Homo sapiens: one gene and its partners. The protein of the gene in region 3 purifies or fractionates together with the protein of the main gene of each other region. This does not show direct contact. Each region holds a gene or a part of one and is shown on either strand. Other genes may lie near its edges.

Region 1 (5,471 bases), on a different chromosome or scaffold from region 3:
GCTGCACCATCTGGCCCAGGCGTACACTCCTCTGGTTCAATGCTGCCCCAGCCTGAGGCGTAGCAGGTGGTCCCCAGTGCTGGCTCCTGGGTGGGCAGGTCCATGACCTTCACAGCATCCGTGAGCTCGGCAGGCTCTGACAGGCGGAGCAGCATGAGGTCGTGGCTGGAGTCATCACCTGGCCTGAGGAATCGATTCTTCAGGAGGCTCATATCGTAGAGCGGGTGTGGGAAGCTGTGGCTGACCTGAAATACCTGGCCTGTGTCTTCAGGATGAAACAGGCTGTGCCGACCCAGCAAGATCACGCTTTTGCTGGGGAGGAAGCAGACGCAGGAATGAGGAGCGAGGATGATAAGGAAAGAGAGAAGGGACAGAGGAGCAAGGAGGAGGCTCCAAAAGAGAAAAAGAAACAGTGAGAAAAACACAGGGTTGGGGAAGACACAGTTCAGGCCAAAAATACAGACAACGAGTTGGGAAACAGCAGTGTGAGAGGGTGAAGGGCAGATACAGAAACTGAGAGAAACCAAGGGAAAAAGGAAGAGGGTAAAAGGACAGAGAGAATGAAAGGGCAGAGGGGAGAACAGTGACAAACAAGGTGAGCCGAAAATACACAGGATGAGAAAGAAAAGACAGAAACATAGAGAAACAGACATGGGCCAGAGAAAGAGAGAGAGAAGAACAAAACCAGGCAGAAAGTGAGAAACAGATGAATGAGAAAGGGAAGCAGGAAGTCAAAGGAAGAATGAGAACCAAGTAGAGAGGAATCCGGGGGATGATAGAGTGTGGGAGAGAAAAGGGAGAGAGACTTTGGAGCTGAGTGGGGACCGCTGGGGAGGGGAGGCCTCAGAGTGGCTCAGCTGTAGATGCGGCTTTGGCGTGGGTTTCCAAGTGGGTAGGTAGCCTGGCCTGCAGGCCCAAGGTTGTATCCTCCACTTCGCTCCCCAGGGTCCTTTCCCCCATACCCTGTTTTCCTTCCCCCTTCTCCTTCCTCCTCCCTCAATTGCCCCTCCCAGCTCCAGCTGGAACCAGCCCTTCTCTGTGTCTCCCAAGAGTGGAGGGATGTCCTGGAGAAGGAATGGAGTGAGAGGGGCCCTCTCATACCCTCATACCCACACACATCAGGGATAAAACACTTCCTTTTCTTTTCTTTTCTTTTCTTTTTTTTTTTTTTTTTTTTTGAGGCGGAGTCTCACTCTGTCACCCAGGCTGGAGTGCAGTGGCACGGTCTCGGCTCACTGCAACCTCCACCTCCCAGGTTCAAGCAATTCTCCTCCCTCAGCCTCCTGAGTAGCTGGGACTACAGGCATGCGCCACCACGCCTGGCTAATTTTTTGTATTTTTAGTAGAGATGGGGTTTCACCAGTTGGCCAGGCTGGTCTCGAACTCCTGACCTCAGGTGATCTACCTGCCTTGGCCTCCCAAAGTGCTGGGATTACAGGTGTGAGCCACCGCGCCCAGCCAAAGCCCTTCCTTTTCTCAGGGTCCCCCCAGGCCCATCCCATGCGTGTGCTCAGTAGGGAGAAGGCACAGGTGAGACAGAGACCGAGAGACAGAGCCTGGCAGAGAGATACAGGGTGAGACACACTGGCTAGAGAGGGACCAGAGAAGGACAGAGAGAGGGGGAGATATGGAGACTGAAGACAGAGAAGAGAGGGAGAGAGAGAACAAAATAGTCACACGGAGAGACACAACCGAAGCCAGTTACCAAGAGACATAATGAAAGCGACACAAAGAGACATAGAGGAACACAGATGGAGACCCAGGCAGCCATGGGGAGGGTGGTCCAGCCCCAACCCTGCCTCCCCATGTGACCTGAACCAGAACTTTCCCTCTCTCCCCCAGTCCCAAGGCTGGCCTTAGAGGTTATCCTGGGGAAAATGCCCAGCTGTTATTCCTCTGGGACACAGACACCTGCTCCCCAGACCCCAGGCCCCTACTCACTTCCTGATGCAGTGGGCAGCTGTGAGGACCCACTGGGGGTGCACCAGAACACCGCCGCAGACTGCCCTGCCACGAGAGGCCACAAGCACCTGCCAGGGTTGGGAATGCTTCTCGCACTCCCAGCCTCCCACAATCCGAGACAGGATGAGGGGTGCAGCACCTGCAGAGGGGGTGCTAGATCAGGGGAATCAGGGTTGACAGGAGGAACTGGGGGACTCGGATAGGAGATGGATTTAGGATGTGGGTTTGAAAAGACACGGGGGCAGAGAACCAAGGCTGGGAGTCCTGGGACATGGGCAGGGGGAGCTGGGAAAGGCTGGGAATTCTGTCAATCTTCCCTAGGTTTGCAGGTTGGTGGCTGGTGCTGGTGGAGAGGCTTCATGCTCTGGGAGCAGAGTTGAACCCAGGGATCAGGGTAGGAGACACAAGACAGCGCCCAGACCATATCTTGAGTCTGGGGATTGGGTCCTTTGTGGTGATTTGGGGTCTTGGACTGGGAGAAGGGAAACTTGGTACAAGTTGTGGATTCTGAGGGGATAAGCGGTGCTAGGAACCAGGGATAAGTGCCTTATGGCGAGGTTCAGTTGCTGGAAGAGGAAGGTTTTGGAAAGTTTAGGAAGTCCCAGGTTGAGAAAACAGTTCTGGTCTGAGTTGGTTTTGTTTTATTTGTTTTTCTTTTTGTTTTTAGGTTTTGAAAAGGATGCAGATTTGGGGAATCAGAGAGCTGGCAGTTGTGGCTGGGGATGCTCATGTTTTTCCTAAGGAAAATGTGGGCCACTGAATGAAGAGTCTGGGGCTAAGAGTCAGGGAATGAGGAGTTCTCAGAGTCCCATTGCCAGACTGAGGGACCCATTTGTTGTCTCAGGCCAGATAGCCTGGCTAGGAAGAAGGAGGTGTCTGGTTGGCATCTGGGTATCCTAGGGCAAGATTGGGAGGCCAAGCATCAAGGTCTCTGGGATAGGGTTGGGCACTCACAGCTGAATGGGAAAAGTCAGTAGACTGTGATAGGATTGAGGGGCTCAGGAGGTGGACCAGTGATACGGTCCAAGGAACCAATGGCATTGAGAGAGGTCCTTGGAGGTTTTGAGCCCCACAAAGAGAAACACGGAGATGCCCAGGAACTTCCCCTTTAGTAAAGCAGCTGGGAGCAGGGAGCTGGCTGGGCAATGGGGAGAAAGTTCTGGGGTAAGTGGGAGGGAGCGGGGACCTGGTGTGGGAGTGAGGACTGTTGCAATATGGAGGGGCTGGGGGTATGGGCTTGGAGTGGGGCTGGGAGAGACAGAAAAGAGCCCAGCTCCCTGTCTGGGCTGGGGTGCTGGGTTGGGGGGGAAAGAGCCTCAGCTTGACAGTCAGGGCTGGCTCCCTCTCCTGCATCCCCCCAACCATGGCCCCTCTCACCAATCCACGTCACGGACAGGGTGAGGAAGACAACCGGGACCCACATGGTGACACAGCTCTCCGGGTGCAGGTGGTAAGCTTGGGGCTGGGGAGCCTCCCCCAGGAGCCCTATAAAACCTTCATTCCCCAGGACTCCGCCCCTGCCCTGCTGGCACCCAGAGGCTGACCAAGGCCCTCCCCATGCTGCTGGAGGCTGGACAACCCCCTCCCACACCCAGAGCTGTGGAAGGGGAGGGAGAGCTAGCACTTGCTGTTCTGCAATTACTAGATCACCCTGGATGCACCAGGCCCTGTAGCTCATGGAGACTTCATCTAGGGGACAAAGGCAGAGGAGACACGCCCAGGATGAAACAGAAACAGGGGGTGGGTACGATCCCCGATTCTTCATACAAAGCCTCACGTGCCTAGATCCTTTGCACTCCAAGACCCAGTGTGCCCTAAGACACCAGCACTCAGGAGATTGTGAGACTCCCTGATCCCTGCACCACTCTGAGACCAGAAACTAGAACTTTTATTCCTCATGCTCCTGAAATAGATGTCTTGGCATTTAGTACATTCTTTTCCTTGCACTCCCAACCCAGAATCCAGCTCCACAGATACATTGCTACTGTCATCATAAAAAGATCTTGTGGTCCACAGATCCTCTAGCCCAGAAATATGAGTCTCCCAAAGTTCCCTAGCATTTCAAAATCCAACGTGCAGCAAACAATGTGGAATTCCAATAACCCCCCACTCCTTGTTCTCCAGACCTGTGCACTCTATCTGTGCAACAGAGATGCCTGCTGACCTGCCCTCCCAGGTCAGAATCATCCTCATGCAAAATCCAATGCCCCTTCTCCAACAAAATATTTAGCCTTTAGGAGCCAGGTTTATGTACCTCAAGATTAAACGACAGGTCAGTCATGGTGGCTCACGCCTGTAATCCCAACACTTTCCGAGGCCAAGGTAGGAGGATCACTTGAAGCCAGGAGTTCAAGGCCAACCAGAGAAACAAAGCAAGATCCATCTCTACAAAAAAAAAAAAAAAATTTTTTTTTTTTGAGACAGAGTCTCACTCTGTCACCCAGGCTGGAGTGCAGTGGCGCAATCTCGGCTCATTGCAACCTCTGCCTTCTGGGTTCAAGTGATTCTCCTGCCTCAGCCTCCTCAGTAGCTGGGATTACAGGTGCCGTGTGCCACCACGCCCGGCTAATTTTTCTATTTTTTTTTTTTTTAGTAGAGACAGAGTTTCACCATGTTGGTCAGGCTGGTCTCAAACTCCTGACCTCGTGATCCACCCATCTCAGCCTCCCATGGTGTTGGGATTACAGGCGTGAGCCACTGTGCCCGGCCCCCCAAAAAATTTAAAAATTATCTGGATATGGTGGTGGACTACTGTAGTCTTAGCTATTGGGAGACCGAAGCAGGAGAATCTCTTAAGGCCAGGAGTTCAAGGCTACAGTGAGCTGTGATCACGCCATTGAACTCCAGCCTGGGAAATAGAATGAGACTGAAACCTCGATTTAAAAAAAAAAAAAAAAAGATTAAGGTGGCATGCAAAATCACAATTTGTAGTCTCAGAAGAGAATCGGGAACTCTTAAGAGCCCTGGTACCTCCACTGTTAACTCCGTAAGATTTCATCAATTTCCAAAAAGTTGGTTATTTCAGCTGTTCAATAAAACCAGAGTAGCTCACTTGATCCAGCCCGAGCTGTGTCTCAAGAATTTGACAAAAGTGGCTGGGCGCGGTGGCTGACGCCTGTAATCCCAGCACTTTGGGAGGCTGAGGCAGGTGGATCACCAGGTCAGGAGTTCGAGGCCAGCCTGGCAAACATTGGTGAAACCCCATCTCTACTAAAAATACAAAAATTAGCTGGGCATGGTGCTGCATGCCTGTAATCCCAGCAACTCAGGAGGCTGAGGCAGGAGAATCACTTGAACCTGGGAGGCAGAGGTTGCAGTGAGCCGAGACTGCGCCACTGCACTCCAGCCTGGGCAACAGAGTGAGACTCTGTCTCAAAAAAAAAAAAAAAAAAAAAAAGAATTTGATAAAATCTTCCCCTGTTTCTAGTTGAGTGATCAGGTAAACTCCAAGCACAGTGAGGGAGACAGAGGTGGATATAGATAATCACAATTTAAGACCATCTTAGAGC
Region 2 (4,594 bases), on a different chromosome or scaffold from region 3:
CCAGGAAGTAGACAGTTTAGAGGGTATTAAATATTTGAGAAATATGCTTATGTTTGGTATTGTTATTGTTTTATTTTTGGTTTGGACTTTTAATTTCCTATTTCTTATTAGTGCTTCATTCAAATGGATTTATTCGATGTCTCTAAGATTTGATTTCCTTTTCTTTTTCACACAACTGTGTGTTTGCTCATTAGTAAAAGTTGAATAATATACAGTGTTTACATTTTAATATTTAATTGTTGGATGAATCTCACTTCAAGGGGTAAAGGCTATAGTTCATTGACAGTGATGAAATAACCTAGCTGGCTTTCATATAAATAGCAACGAATGTGCACAATAGTTACATTACATGGTATATTTAACAACACTGCTAAAGAGTAAGATGGGAGTTCAGTCTTTCCTGATGGAGATACACCTGAGTGCATTCAGAGAAAATTTGGTTCTGCAAGCTTGAAGGAAGTAATTGTTATTCAACAGAAATCAACTAACTTTGCATATCAGTAAAATACACACACATACTCTTAGCTATTTTCTGAGTGCTCTGGAACTGATATCAAAATAGCAAATATATATTTATGAGAAGTAGAAATGCTGTATTCTTTTCAGTCACATAAACTCAGTGTAATTATGAAATTAACTTAACTTTGAGAAGATATGAAAAATGTTACTTCTTAACCAAGTAAAGATCTAATAAAAACTACAAATTTTATATCAAGTTACATCATTTTTACATGCACATTTGTACCCCAAATACCATGCCATTAATTAATTTTTCACTGTTCATTTCTAGATGGAAGACTGTATTTGAAAACTACTGTCATGTACTGAATCTTTCCTGTTGAAGAAATCCATGTTATAGAAAAGAACTTTGCAGTCAGACATTCGTCATGGGAAAGTTCAGAAAAAAATAAAGTCCTTTTAAGGGAACTTCCTGAATTTTGTGTATTAATGTTCTTTAAAAGTTTAAGTATTCTACAAAAAAAAAAAAAGTTTTCTCCATTGATTTTCACCTGTGGTTCATACCAGAGACCTGAGAATGTTTGTAAATGTACAAGTATCAAAGTTCTTACAGTTAATTACTGCAACTTGCTGCTGGACAATTGTATACAGAGTTAAAGGCAGGTCTGAATAAGACCTAGCTTTGTTTTTTTCTAATGGAATGAACCATTTTCCTCTTCTGAAAATTCTGTATCTGAGCACATCAAGAGACTCTTGTAGCAGTGGTTACCCAGACTTACAGAATTATGTCCTCCAGAAACCAGCAAGAACACTTGGAATGAACGAATGAACTTGTAGGGGGCATAGAGGATTCTTGAAAAAAAAAAATGCAAGAGTGATTTTCTGTTACATTCAATTTCAAACTCTCTAATTGTGGGTTTTCTCCTGAAGAATTTTTTTTCACATACTTTCCAAAAGACCAACAAATGGATGTTGACAACAACCCAATGAAATAACATTTTGCATATCTGAAAAGAAGCATTGAATATAAGCCAAAAGCTTTCACTGAAGGTTTTTTTTTCTTAAAAATAAAAAAAAATATATAAGTGTAACATGTTTTCATTCCAAACTGGTAGTGGTATGTAGAATTAAAGATAATAATGTTGCTTCTTATTCAAACTGTTGGTCATATGTACAGTATATAAACATAAAACACACAAGGAAGGTATTATGTATGCAGTAGTATACTAGAGTTTAGGAAAATGAAAATTTTAGAAAATATGTTTTGTCACCCTGTTGGTCAGAAAGATGTCTTTCTGGTTTTAACGCATGCAGGCATGTAAATATTTGTCTGGAGTCACAGTATTAATGAATGAGATCTTAAGCATCTGGTGACATCAGAACTCTGTGTCAGCCACTTTTATTTGTATATTGAACCCTAGCTAGTGCCCCAAGCTGCACTATTGGGAATGGATTGTGGCTGAACAGCAAATCAAAACACCAGAAATATTTTTATATGTTAACGTCATATTATGTTAATGTTGCTGAAAACAAAACCTAACAAACCTTGATGTACCAGTCCAATACCATGTAGCGCTGAGTGATAAAGTTAAAATGTGCTGTGCTTCCCACCCTTGTCAGAGGGAAGGGTGGCTATGTGTTATTTTCACTGTCTTTTTGAAAGTTACAGTATGTGTTTTCACTTTCGTGCAGATAACTGGAAGTAAAGCGGCAAACAGTGCTTATTACATGCTAAAGTTACCTTCTCTTTGTTTTTTGCATATCTGGAATTACACCTTTAAAGACTGATATGAATCAGTACGGTCACTATACATTTTATGATTTTTCTGTCATCTTAAAATTGTATGATCGTAACATTATTTATTACCACAAAACAGCAAAATCTTCAATGTCTAAGAAAACTAGCTTAAAATGTTTAAATATAGTTCTGATTGGGTATTAATTACTTGATTAAGAAAAAATTAACATTATAGATACTCTGGCATTACGCTTCTATACCTTTTAGGTCTTCCTTGCAATACTGGAACATAATTCTTTTGTGTAGCTCACTATTAGCCAGCTAAGTTCATCTTTTTAATACCATAAAAAGGTTATATGTACAGTTCCTATTTTAGCTTGCTTACAAAGGGAGCATTATTTTTATTTAAAGTATTGCTAGTAAATGATTTGTAGAAACTTGGTTTTCTAAGCATAGTTCTTCCATAACCACCTTTTGTTGTTTGAGCACAAGGGATTCTTTTCCTAGTTCTATGTGTTTGTTTCCCTATATGCAGTCTTTAAAGGATTACAACACTTAAAATTGAATGGACTTGTGTCAAGCTTTTTGCATCATACATTTTTTGAAAGATTTTTAAAAAAGCCTACAACTTACATATGTAGTAGAATCAGCCATTGCTCTGCTCCTGGCATAGAGTCACCTGTTTGTTATGTGGATTAAATAGTTTTAAAATACATATTTGAAGACCTTTGAGAATGCTTTAGTGTTTGATTTGAAATAAAAGGAAATTTTAGCAAGGATTAAAGAAAAAAGCTATCAGCTGTATGTTAAGAGAGACTCTTACTAACATGTTGTAAATATTACAATTCATGAAATGTTATTGTAAGTCTGTAACTTAATTTTTTCCCTGTTTTAGTTATACAGGTTGGTTTGGAAATTTGTGTTTTGGCATAAACAAGTAAAATGTGCCCATTTTATGGTTTCCATGCTTTTGTAATCCTAAAAATATTAATGTCTAGTTGTTCTATATTATAACCACATTTGCGCTCTATGCAAGCCCTTGGAACAGAACATACTCATCTTCATGTAGGACCTATGAAAATTGTCTATTTTTATCTATATATTTAAAGTTTTCTAAAAATGATAAAAGGTTATTACGAATTTTGTTGTACAAAATCTGTACAAAAATCTGTTTTTACATCATAATGCAAGAATTGGAAATTTTTCTATGGTAGCCTAGTTATTTGAGCCTGGTTTCAATGTGAGAACCACGTTTACTGTTATTGTATTTAATTTTCTTTTCCTTTTCAACAATCTCCTAATAAAACTGTCTGAAATCTCCCTGTGACTTTATTTACAGTTCATCTTTATTAAATTTTGTGAAATGCATAGCATTGAAGGAATATTTACTTTCTAATGGGAGGCATCTAAAAACAACACAAGTCAGCTCTTTGCAATGCAAGGGGAACAATGCTCAATGATTTTATTTAACATGCAACTGCTTCTATCTCTAATATGAATTACTGTGGTGAAAAACATCATAAAAGCACACTCTGTAGTTATTGTTTAACAAGCAGATTTTCCATATTTTGTTTCTTGCCAGCTAAGCAAACTGCCCACATATACATGATTTATTTATGTACATTTCTCAGTTTATGAAGCTGTTATTTGTACCTTTTTTCTTTATATTCTTATATTCCCATGATTCTTATTTCACAAAGCTTTGTGCTGAATAATGCAAAGTAGACATGTTGATGGAACAAAATATATTATTCCCATATCTATGAGTGGAGATTTGTAACTCTAACTCAGTGTTTTGCTTTTGATCTCTATCTTTGGAAAAAAAATGCCTTTAGAAACTTTGAAATTACAATATCCTTTAATAATACATAAACACTTTAATCAATCAAAAGTGCAGCATTTGAAGAACTATCGGGTTGCTATCTCTGTGAATATTCTAAACATTCCCAAGAGAAAGGAAAATGAATTTTTCTGTCTAAAGGTATGATTTTAATGAATTCTTGAAACAGTATATTAAATTATGATTTTTTTCCTTAATAAAACCTAAAACGTTTATGATGTGACCATTACAAGCACATTTTTGTCTTCTGTCATCATATGTTTATGTCAGTAAGACTAGCACTAGAACATCATGCAGTCTCTGGATGTTAGTGAAACTCAGTGATAATTTAGGTTTGCCCCCATGTGTTTTCATTGAGACTAGCAAATTTATAATGTTCACAAAAGCTATTTATTACTAGAGGAGAGTATCTTATAAATATGTTATATGGATTGCATTTTTAAAATATGGGAAATAGAGATGTTAATAGAATCAAAAAGCTGTTGTAAATTGCCTTACAAAAATATCTTTTCCTTATGTGCAGGCTTGATGGTAACATTTATCTTTACTATATGACT
Region 3 (4,724 bases):
CAGGATGGTCTCCATCTCCTGACCTCATGATCTGCCTGCCTTGGCCTCCCAAAGTGCAGGGATTACGTCTTCTTTTTAAAAATGAAAAAACCAAGCAGTACCATGCCCATATTCCCTCTTGGCAAAAATCAGCTAGAATCAAGTCACAGATGCCTCCTTTAGATGGGATATATGCTCTCTGGCTTATTAATCCCCACCATTCCCGGATGATTTTCATAACAGGCCTGATATATTCATTTGGCTGTCTGGCCCCTTTAGGCATTTGTATTTGTAACCCTCCAATCTTCTAATATAATACAATAGTTCCTGCCCCAGATTTTGCAATTCAATAATCTTATTGTTAGAACCACATTTTACATGTTGAGGAAAAATACAAATGTAAATTTTAAAATGAAGTAAAAACTCTTATCATCTTTTATCTGAGTTAGAAATAGCAGGCCGGGCGCGGTGGCTCACGCCTGTAATCCCAGCACTTTGGGAGGCCGAGGCGGGTGGATCATGAGGTCAGGAGATCGAGACCATCCTGGCTAACAAGGTGAAACCCCGTCTCTACTAAAAATACAAAAAATTAGCCGGGCGCGGTGGCGGGCGCCTGTAGTCCCAGCTACTGGGGAGGCTGAGGCAGGAGAATGGCGTGAACCCGGGAAGCGGAGCTTGCAGTGAGCCGAGATTGCGCCACTGCAGTCCGCAGTCCAGCCTGGGCGACAGAGCGAGACTCCGTCTCAAAAAAAAAAAAAAAAAAAAGAAATAGCATCTGGAACACATGAATTATTTTTCTCTTTCTATAAAGTTTTCCTAGTTCTGTCCATCAAAAGGCCTATAAACAATGACAACATTGTAGGAATATACAAAAATATCACCCAGATTATAATCTCTAAATACCATTTCCCACTGAAAGGAATTAGAATTCTGATTCTAAATCTGGGGAAGAAAATATACAAGATGAGCTTCATCTTGTATATTTTAGGAAACTACTACAGACCACTGGGATTGTGCCAAGGACAAAGGAGCCAACATAAATAAGCTGCCACTGGTCAAAGAAAGAATAATTTGAACATCGAAAATGAATGGGAGGCAAAAATCCATGAGTTTATAATTCTAAACAAACAAACAAAACTCTAGTCATGTTTTGAGGCTCCTAAGGCACAAATTAATTATTCTGGGAATATGTAGGTAAAAAGAAAAAAAAAGTCCCATTTTATTTTGGCCTTTCCTGTATAAATACTTTCAGGGTAATAAAGTGGTATATGAGGAAGAGGTCTTCTTTCCTGAAGAATCCCAGCCAATAAATTCAGAAGGCTGGAGAAGGAATATCACCTTTTACAACACCTACTAATATACTGCAATGAGGCAACAATTAGCAATAGATGCTATCATTAGAGAAAAGTTAATTGGGAATTTTACAACGGATGAATCAATCTGACAACAGCTAAACTGTTTGATTTTAACATCACAAAACACATCTTCTTGATGTAAAGAAATACACATCACCAACTAGGAATCTTGCCAAAAAAGAATTGAAAGTAAATCTAATCAAGCCTGTCTCTACCTATAAATTTACTGGAAATACAGAGAACTGAAAAACATGTTAAATTTTACCAGAGATACACTCAGCCAAAACCAGAATGAGGAAAATTATGTAGAACAAATGACCCTGTTTCTTCAACAAATAAATTATAAACAAAGAGACAATCAATAGATTAAAATTTAAAAGGCATATCAAGGGCAGGCCCAGTGGTTCACGCCTGTAATCCCAACACTTTGGGAGGCCGAGGCAGGCAGATCACCTGAGATCAGGAGTTCAAGACCAGCTTGGCCAACATGGTGAAACCCTGTCTCTACCAAAAATATAAAAAATTAGCCAGGCGTGGTGGCACGCGCCTGTAATCCTAGCTACTCGGGAGGCTGAGACAGGAGAATCACTTGAACTGGGGAGGCAGAAGTTGCCGTGAGCTGAGATCATGCACTGTACTTCAGCCTGGGTGACAGAGCAAGACTTCATCTCAGAAAAATAAATTTAAAAAAAAATAAAAGGTATATCAACCACCAAATGTAACGTGTGTGAACCTGGTTTGGCTCCTAATTTCAAAAAATTACGAAAACATTATTAGACAATGGGGAAATATGAACACAGACCGGATAAGATGATAAAAAGAATTATTAATCTTTTAGATGATATGTTTTAAAAGACTATATTTCTAGAGTTCTCTGTGAGTCTGTCTTTTCCAGATGAAGTAATATATTCTCTAAGATAGAGGTTCTTCAAAGTATAGTAGGAGAAGCTCCAGGGGTCTCTGGATCTTTTCAGGAGGCTAAAGTTCTGGAGATCTGTTCATAATGACCTAAATATGCTTATAATACTACTGAGCTGTATACTTAAAAATGGTTCAGATGATAAATTTTATATTTTTGCCACAACAAAAAAATTAACTAAAAAAGACCACATACCTCCTTTTATTTTAATTTCTCAATAAATATAATCTCTCTTGCCCAAAGCAATTTCAAAGTTTACTATATTAAAATAACTTAGAGAACCAATCTTGATTCATCACCTAACAAAAAAATAATAAACTAGTTCTAAAAATACAAATATGTAAATTCAAACTGAATCAAAAATCTGAAATAGAATTTTCAGCTATGAAGATGTTATTGTCTCTTAGTTTAATAGTGTAACAAATTAGAAAATTAACAGTAAGCCAGGGTATCATTATCTGGTTCCTCAGGATAACTTATGAGTCATATAAAACATTTTCTTTTGATCCTATGCATGAAATTTGAGACAAATTGCTAGGGTTTTTTGTATGCAATTATAAATGTTAAGAATATTAAAAATTTATCCAGCCAGGTGAGGCAGCTCAGGCCTGTAATCCCAGCACTTTGGGAGTCCGAGGCAGGCGGATCACTTAAGCTCAGGAGTTCCAGACCAGCCTGGGCAACATGGCGAAACCCTGTCTCTACAAAAAATACAAAAATTAGCCAGGTATGGTGGCGTGCACCTGTAATCCCAGCTACTCCGGAGGTTGAGGTGGGAGAATTGCTTATGCCTGGGAGGTGGAGGCTGCAGTGAGCCAAGATTGTGCCACTGCACTCCAGCCTGGGTAACAGAGCAAGACTCTTGTCTCAAAAAAAAAAAAAAAAAAAAAATCTAAAAAATACTGTGCATCATCTTTACCAAACTGAATGTTAATTTTATCAAGTTCTCCCCTCTGCAAACTATCCAGATAAAAAATATGAATGTGTCAGAGTGAAACTACATTAAATACAAATTGGTAGAACATGGTTAGATAGAAAGCAGTTTAGCTACATTTGTGGGAAAAAAAAAACCTGTACCTTTTGGCCCAATTAATTCCACTGTTGAAAATTTACTTTAAAGAAATAATCTAGGCCGGGCGCAGTGGCTCACGCCTGTGATCCTAGCACTTTGGGAGGCCAAGGCGGGTGGATCACAAGGTCAGGAGATCGAGACCATCCTGGCTAACACGGTGAAACCCTGTCTCTACTAAAAATACCAAAAAAAATAGCGGGGCATGGTGGCAGGCGCCTGTAGTCTCAGCTACTCGGGAGGCTGAGGCACAAGAATGATGTGAACCTGGGAGGCGGAGCTTGCAGCAAGTTGAGATGGCGCCACTGCACTCCAGCCTGGGAGACAGAGCGAGACTCCGTCTCAAAAAAAAAAAAAAAAAAGAAATAATCTAGAATACAAATTTAACCACAAAGGTATTTATCACAAGGCTAAGCGAATAGGTTATCATTCCACTATTATTAGGCATTTATATTAAGTAAATAATAGTACATGCATACAATAAATTAGGCTGCTGTTAAAAATCATTTACAGTAAATTTTTAACAACGATTTTAATTGCCCTGATATATAAATTTTTTTTTTATACTTTAAGTTCTTGGGTACATGTGCACAACGTGCAGGTTTGTTACATATGTATACATGTGCCATGTTGGTGTACTGCACCCATTAACTCGCCATTTACATTAGGTATTTCTCCTAATGCTATCCCTCCCCCCTCCCCCCACCCCACAACAGGCCCCAGTGTGTGATGTTCACATTCCTGTGTCCAAGAGTTCTCATTGTTCAATTCCCACCTATGAGTGAGAACATGCAGTGTTTTGTTTTTTTTCCCTGCGACAGTTTGCTGAGAATGATGGTTTCCAGCTTCATCTATGTCCCTACAAAGGACATTAACTCATCCTTTTTTATGGCTGCATAGTATTCCATGGTGTATATGTGCCACATTTTCTTAATCCAGTCTATTACTGATGGACATCTGGGTTGGTTCCAAGTCTTTGCTATTGTGAACAGTGCCGCAATAAACATATGTGTGCATGTGTCTGTATAGCAGCATGATTTATAATCCTTTGGGTATATACCCACTAATGGGATGGCTGGGTCAAATGGTATTTCTAGTTCTAGATCCTTGAGGAATCACCACACTGTCTTACACATGGTTGAACTAGTTTACAGTCCCACCAACAGTGGAAAAGTGTTCCCATTTCTCCACATCCTCTGCAGCACCTGTTGTCTCCTGACTTTTTAATGATCACCATTCTAACTGGTGTGAGAGGGTATCTCATTGTGGTTTTGATTTGCATTTCTCTGATGGCCAGTGATGATGAGCATTTTTTCATGTGTCTGTTGGCTGCATAAATGTCTTCTTTTGAAAAGTGTCTGTTCATATCCTTTGCCCACTTTTTGATGGGGTTGTTTTTTTC
Region 4 (4,724 bases), on a different chromosome or scaffold from region 3:
CAGACACAGAATAGAAGAGTGTGTGTGTCCATGTGTGGTGCAGAGATGCGTGTCTGCTTCCTAACTGTTAACGGTGCCCAGGAATGCTGCTCCCTGGCAGTGGTGAACACATCCGGTGCCTAAGTCACCCTCCACTCAAAGGCGCCAGGTCTCCTCCAAGAAATGGAGCATCTGAGGGCTGGGGCAGGGAGAGCATGGGACGAGCCTGCGACATCACATGTCCAACAGTAAGAGTGGGCTCAGAGGCCGAGCCTGCGGTACCGCGCGCCCCACAGTAAGCGCGGGCTCAGAGGCCGAGCCTGCGGTACCATGTGCCCCACAGTAAGAGCAGGTTCAGAGGACAGCAGGTGCATTACAAGGACACAGGGATTGTTCGGAGGGACTCCTGAGGGTCCATGTGGGACGATTTGAGCACTGGGATAAATGATAATGAATGATAACCCGGGAATAAGACAGAAGCCTCATGCACACGGACAGAAACAAATCAGTAAGAAGACAGGCAAGGAGGGAAGGTTCGGAGTCACGGCAGGATGACTGATGCCCAGAGGGTGAGGGCGGCAGAAGTCATCCATGGACATGGCAACTAGTGTATGACAATGTGCGAGTGATGGACACTCACAGGTCTCTGCTCTGGTTGGGTGCGTCCCCTCCAAAATGCACCAGGAACTTAATGCCAGAGATGGTGGTGTCGGGAGATGCGGGTATCGGGAGGTGGCGGTGTCGGGAGGTGGGGGTGTCGGAAGGTGTTGGTGTCGGGAGGTGTTGGTGTCGGGAGGTGTGGGTGTCGTGAGGTGTTGGTGTCGGGAGGTGTTGGTGTCGGGAGGTGTTGGTGTCGGGAGGTGGGGGTGTCGGGAGGTGTTGGTGTTGGGAGGTGGGGGTGTCGGGAGGTGGGGGTGTCAGGAGGTGTTAGTGTTGGGAGGTGGGGGTGTGGGGAAGTGTTGGTGTTGGGAGGTGTTGGTGTCGGGAGGTGGGGGTGTCGGGAAGTGGGGGTGTCGGGAGGTGTTGGTATTGGGAGGTGGGGGTGTCGGGAGGTGGGTGTGTCGGGAGGTGTTGGTGTTGGGAGGTGGGTGGGTCAGGAGGTGGGGGTGTCCGGAGGTGGAGGTATCGGGAGACGGCGGTGTTGGAGGTGGCGGTGTTGGAGATGGTGGTGTTGGAGGTGGCAGTGTTGGAGATGGTGGTGTTGGAGGTGGTGGTATTGAGAGGTAGCAGTATTGGGAGATGTGGGTATCGGGAGATGGCAGTGTTGGGAGGTGGCGGTATTGAGAGGTAGCGGTATCGGGAGATGTGGGTATTGGGAGATGTGGGTATCGGGAGATGGCGGTGTTGGAGATGGTGGTATTGGGAGATGGCAGGATTAGGTACTGGGGCCTTCAAGAGGCAGCTGGGTCATGTGGCCTCTGCCTTCAGGAATGGATGAATCCATTCATGGATTCATGGATGAAGGGACAGATGGGTTAATGTGGCAGAGGGCCTGGGGCTTTGTGAGGAGGAGAGACCTGGGTGGAACCGGCTCGCTTAGCCCCCTCCCCTTGCCATGTGACACCCTGGCCGCCTCAGGGCTCCAGAGTCCCCACCAGGAAGAAGGCCCTGGCCAGATATGGCCCCTCGACCTGGGACTTCTCAGCCTCCAGAGCTGTGACAAGTTAATTCCTTTTCTTATAAACTACATGGCCTTAGGTTTTCTGTTGTAAGCAGAAGAAAAGGAACTAAGACCATCGCAAGGCGTCTCCTGAGAAATGACGGACCACAAAGGGAAACAGGTCCCGGGGCAGCAGCAGCGGACAGCCCTGGAGACTGTCACCCAACACGCTAGCCACCCGCATGACGGTGTCACCTGGCCACATGGGACTCAAGCCACCTGCACGGGAGACCCCTCAGGCCCGACAAATGGAACGGCACCCCAAAGAGTTAGACACCAAAATCCACAAACATTCGAGTTTGCAGGATGGCAAACGTGAAAAGAAACAGGCAGCTGAAACGCCGACAAGAACAAAACTGGCTGAAACCGGCTGGAACCCACATGAGCCAGCAGAGTCTGTGCAGAACCAGCTGGCTGATGCCAACTGAACTTCCACCGCGCTTCATACAGACTTCCCCAGGATTCACACCCAGGACCCACGAGCTGGCACGGACAGATAACTGTGCGTGCCCAAGGACCTTCCAGACCTCCCCTTTCCTTCCAACAATCACCTGCTAATCCCAGAATCCACCTCTGCACCTTCTCTCATGAAAGTACTGCCTGAAAGCTGGCACAGGAGGCAGATTTGAGCTGGACGCCCAGTCTCCTTGGGAGTCACTTGCAATGAGAAGCTTTTGTTTCCTCAAATCCTTGGTGCCATGGCATTGGCTTCTAGAACATCAGGCACCGAGTCCTTCTGCTTGCTAACACGAGCAGGCAGGAGAAGCAGCCCCACGGGGATGGTGCGGGTGGCCGCGGGGACGGTGCGGGTGGCCGCGGGATGGCGTGGGTGGCTGCGGGAATGGTGCGGGTGATCAGTGCACCCACTGAGGGGCAGGCTGGGAAACGTGCTTTACGGCAGATTGTAGCCCGTCGTCTCTCCTGAGTGCCAGAAGCTGAGGGTAGGATGTGCTGCCCGAGACACGGGAGGGCTGAGCAAGTGGCTGGCAGCCAAGCTTGGCAGTGCCCGACCTGCGAGTGTTCCCTCAGGAAACATACGCCCAGGTGACCACACATCAAGCCACCTGCGGAGGCCTCCGGCCATGAGGGCCTTGTCCCCACCCACCACCTCAGAGGCAACTACATTCAGAGTCTAGAACTGGAGGTTATATTCTATAGCACCCATCAGAATATTCCGGCCTGCCTGGGCACGGTGGCTCATGCCTGTAATCCCAGAACTTTGGGAGGTTGAGGCAGGCAGATCCTGAGCCCAGGAGTCTGAGACCACCCTGGCCAACACGGCGAAACCGTCTCTACTAAAAATAAAAAAATTTGCCAGGTGTGATGGCATACGTCTGTAGTCCCAGCTACTCAGGAGGCTGAGACAGGAGAATCACTTGAACCCGGGGGACGGAGGTTGCAGTGAGTGGAGGTCGCACCACTGCACTCCAGCCTGGGCAACAGAGCAAGACTCCATCTCAAAATAAATTAATTAATTAATTAAATTAAATAAATAAAGGCAGGCAGGAAGTGGGGTCTCAAGGGAAAATTGTGGTTCCCTCAGGGCCATGGCTGAGACTGGCACCCTTGGCCACCCCGTCCGGCCTGGGCTTCCGCCACTGCCAGGGACATTTTCTATCAGGGTGGAATCTTGGTGGGACAGACCATGGCCCTCCCCAAGGAGGGCTCAGAGCTTTTGGCTGTAAACGGCCCTGGAGCGCTTCCGGTGAGGAAAGTCCTCAGCCCAGGGCGGTCAGGTCCACGTACTTCGGCCTCCCGCCGCCCTTCAGCACAGAAGCCCACAGGAGGAAGCGGCGGCCCCCGAGGGCCTGGCAGGCCTGCACTGAGTCCCAGGACCGATGGCCACCCGTGCCCCACTGCTCGGCCCCTACCTAGCTCCTGGAGCGTGAAGGGCAGGAAGGTCGTGTCCTCGTTCAGGTTCTTGTTGAAGTCGATGCACAGAAGGCTCAGCTTCTTCTTGATGCGTTTGATGTTCTGGAGAGAAAGGCGGGGCGTGAGGGGAGGGAGAGACCGGGGCGGGCTCCGCGGGGAGACGCAACGCCTGGGAACCCTCTCGCCGAGGGCTGAGGGATTTCCCCAAGAACCAGGCCGAAAGAAGAGGCAACCGAGGAGGAAAGAGTGAGACGGGAGGCGGAGGACAGACAGACACGGAGGCCACGAGGCTGCGCAGTGTGGATTTCAACACCAGCTGCGGCATCCAAAGCTGGGTGACCTCGGGCAACCTCAGGGATGTGCTCCGGTCTGTCAGGTGTGGCCCTGGCCAAGAGTGCTCCAGACCCTCCTATCCATTAAGGAATCACCTTCAGAGCCTGCAGCCTAAGCTTTTCAACATTCTTCTGAGACAGGGACTCGCTCTGTTGCCCAGGCTGGAATGCAGTGGCATGATCTCGACTCACTGCAGCCTCAACCTCCCAACTCAATTGATCCTCCTGCCTTAGCCTCCTGAGTAGCTAGGACTACAGGTACACGCCACTACACCCAGCTAATTTTTGTATGTTTGGTACAGACGGGGTTTCACCATGTTGCTCAGGCTGGTTTCGAACTCCTGGGCTCAAGCAATCCTCCCACCTCAGCCTCCCAAAGTGCTGGGATTACAGGCATGAGTCACCGTGTCTGGCAGCTTTTGAACATTTTACCCCTTATCTGGTAAAGCTGGTTTTAGAAACAGCTAAAACTCGACCCTGGTGATATGGGATATCAACAAAGGAACTGAATCTTGAGTGGTCCCTCTGGTGGCCTTGAAGGCTGGGAGGTGACCACTATGTGACAAGGACCTGGCTTGAGGCCACATGACACATGACAGGCTGGCAGCAGGGCTGTACTTTGACTCAGATTCTCCTGCTGGAAGCTCCGCCAGGCGGGTCTGGAGCCCAGCTCCATGGGGCCAGAGCAGAAATGCTCATCCGCAGGACAGAGGGCGGCAGCAGGGGGAAACTGTGCCCAGGACTTTGCAGGGAGCCTGTATCTTGTCAGGAAGGCCCTGGTTCAGAACCAGCTGAGGGTTTGCTGGGCCTCTCCTGGGAACAGGCCCCATGCTGGGCAATTCCCAATGTCTCCCCCTCTTGCCATCTCACATAACAAACCC

Evidence for each region.
Region 1: the proteins of DCK (region 3) and KLK3 purify together in Homo sapiens (affinity purification with mass spectrometry; one large-scale study listed by BioGRID and IntAct). This does not show direct contact.
Region 2: the proteins of DCK (region 3) and DACH1 purify together in Homo sapiens (affinity purification with mass spectrometry; one large-scale study listed by BioGRID and IntAct). This does not show direct contact.
Region 4: the proteins of DCK (region 3) and THOP1 fractionate together in Homo sapiens (co-fractionation; one large-scale study listed by BioGRID). This does not show direct contact.

What each region holds. Positions count from the first base shown.
Region 1 is NC_000019.10:50,852,870-50,858,340, reverse strand, and holds the start of KLK3 (prostate-specific antigen isoform 1 preproprotein), read right to left. Parts: upstream 3,427-5,471; 5' UTR 3,386-3,426; coding exon 3,340-3,385; intron 2,102-3,339; coding exon 1,942-2,101; intron 313-1,941; coding exon 26-312; intron 1-25. UniProt on the Homo sapiens protein: Hydrolyzes semenogelin-1 thus leading to the liquefaction of the seminal coagulum.
Region 2 is NC_000013.11:71,436,889-71,441,482, reverse strand, and holds the end of DACH1 (dachshund homolog 1), read left to right. Parts: intron 1-790; coding exon 791-828; 3' UTR 829-3,517; downstream 3,518-4,594. UniProt on the Homo sapiens protein: Transcription factor that is involved in regulation of organogenesis. Seems to be a regulator of SIX1, SIX6 and probably SIX5.
Region 3 is NC_000004.12:71,017,087-71,021,810, reverse strand, and holds part of DCK (deoxycytidine kinase), read right to left. Parts: intron 1-4,724. UniProt on the Homo sapiens protein: Phosphorylates the deoxyribonucleosides deoxycytidine, deoxyguanosine and deoxyadenosine. Has broad substrate specificity, and does not display selectivity based on the chirality of the substrate.
Region 4 is NC_000019.10:2,798,578-2,803,301, reverse strand, and holds part of THOP1 (thimet oligopeptidase), read right to left. Parts: intron 3,614-4,724; coding exon 3,511-3,613; intron 1,272-3,510; exon of another isoform or gene 1-1,271. UniProt on the Homo sapiens protein: Involved in the metabolism of neuropeptides under 20 amino acid residues long. Involved in cytoplasmic peptide degradation. Able to degrade the amyloid-beta precursor protein and generate amyloidogenic fragments.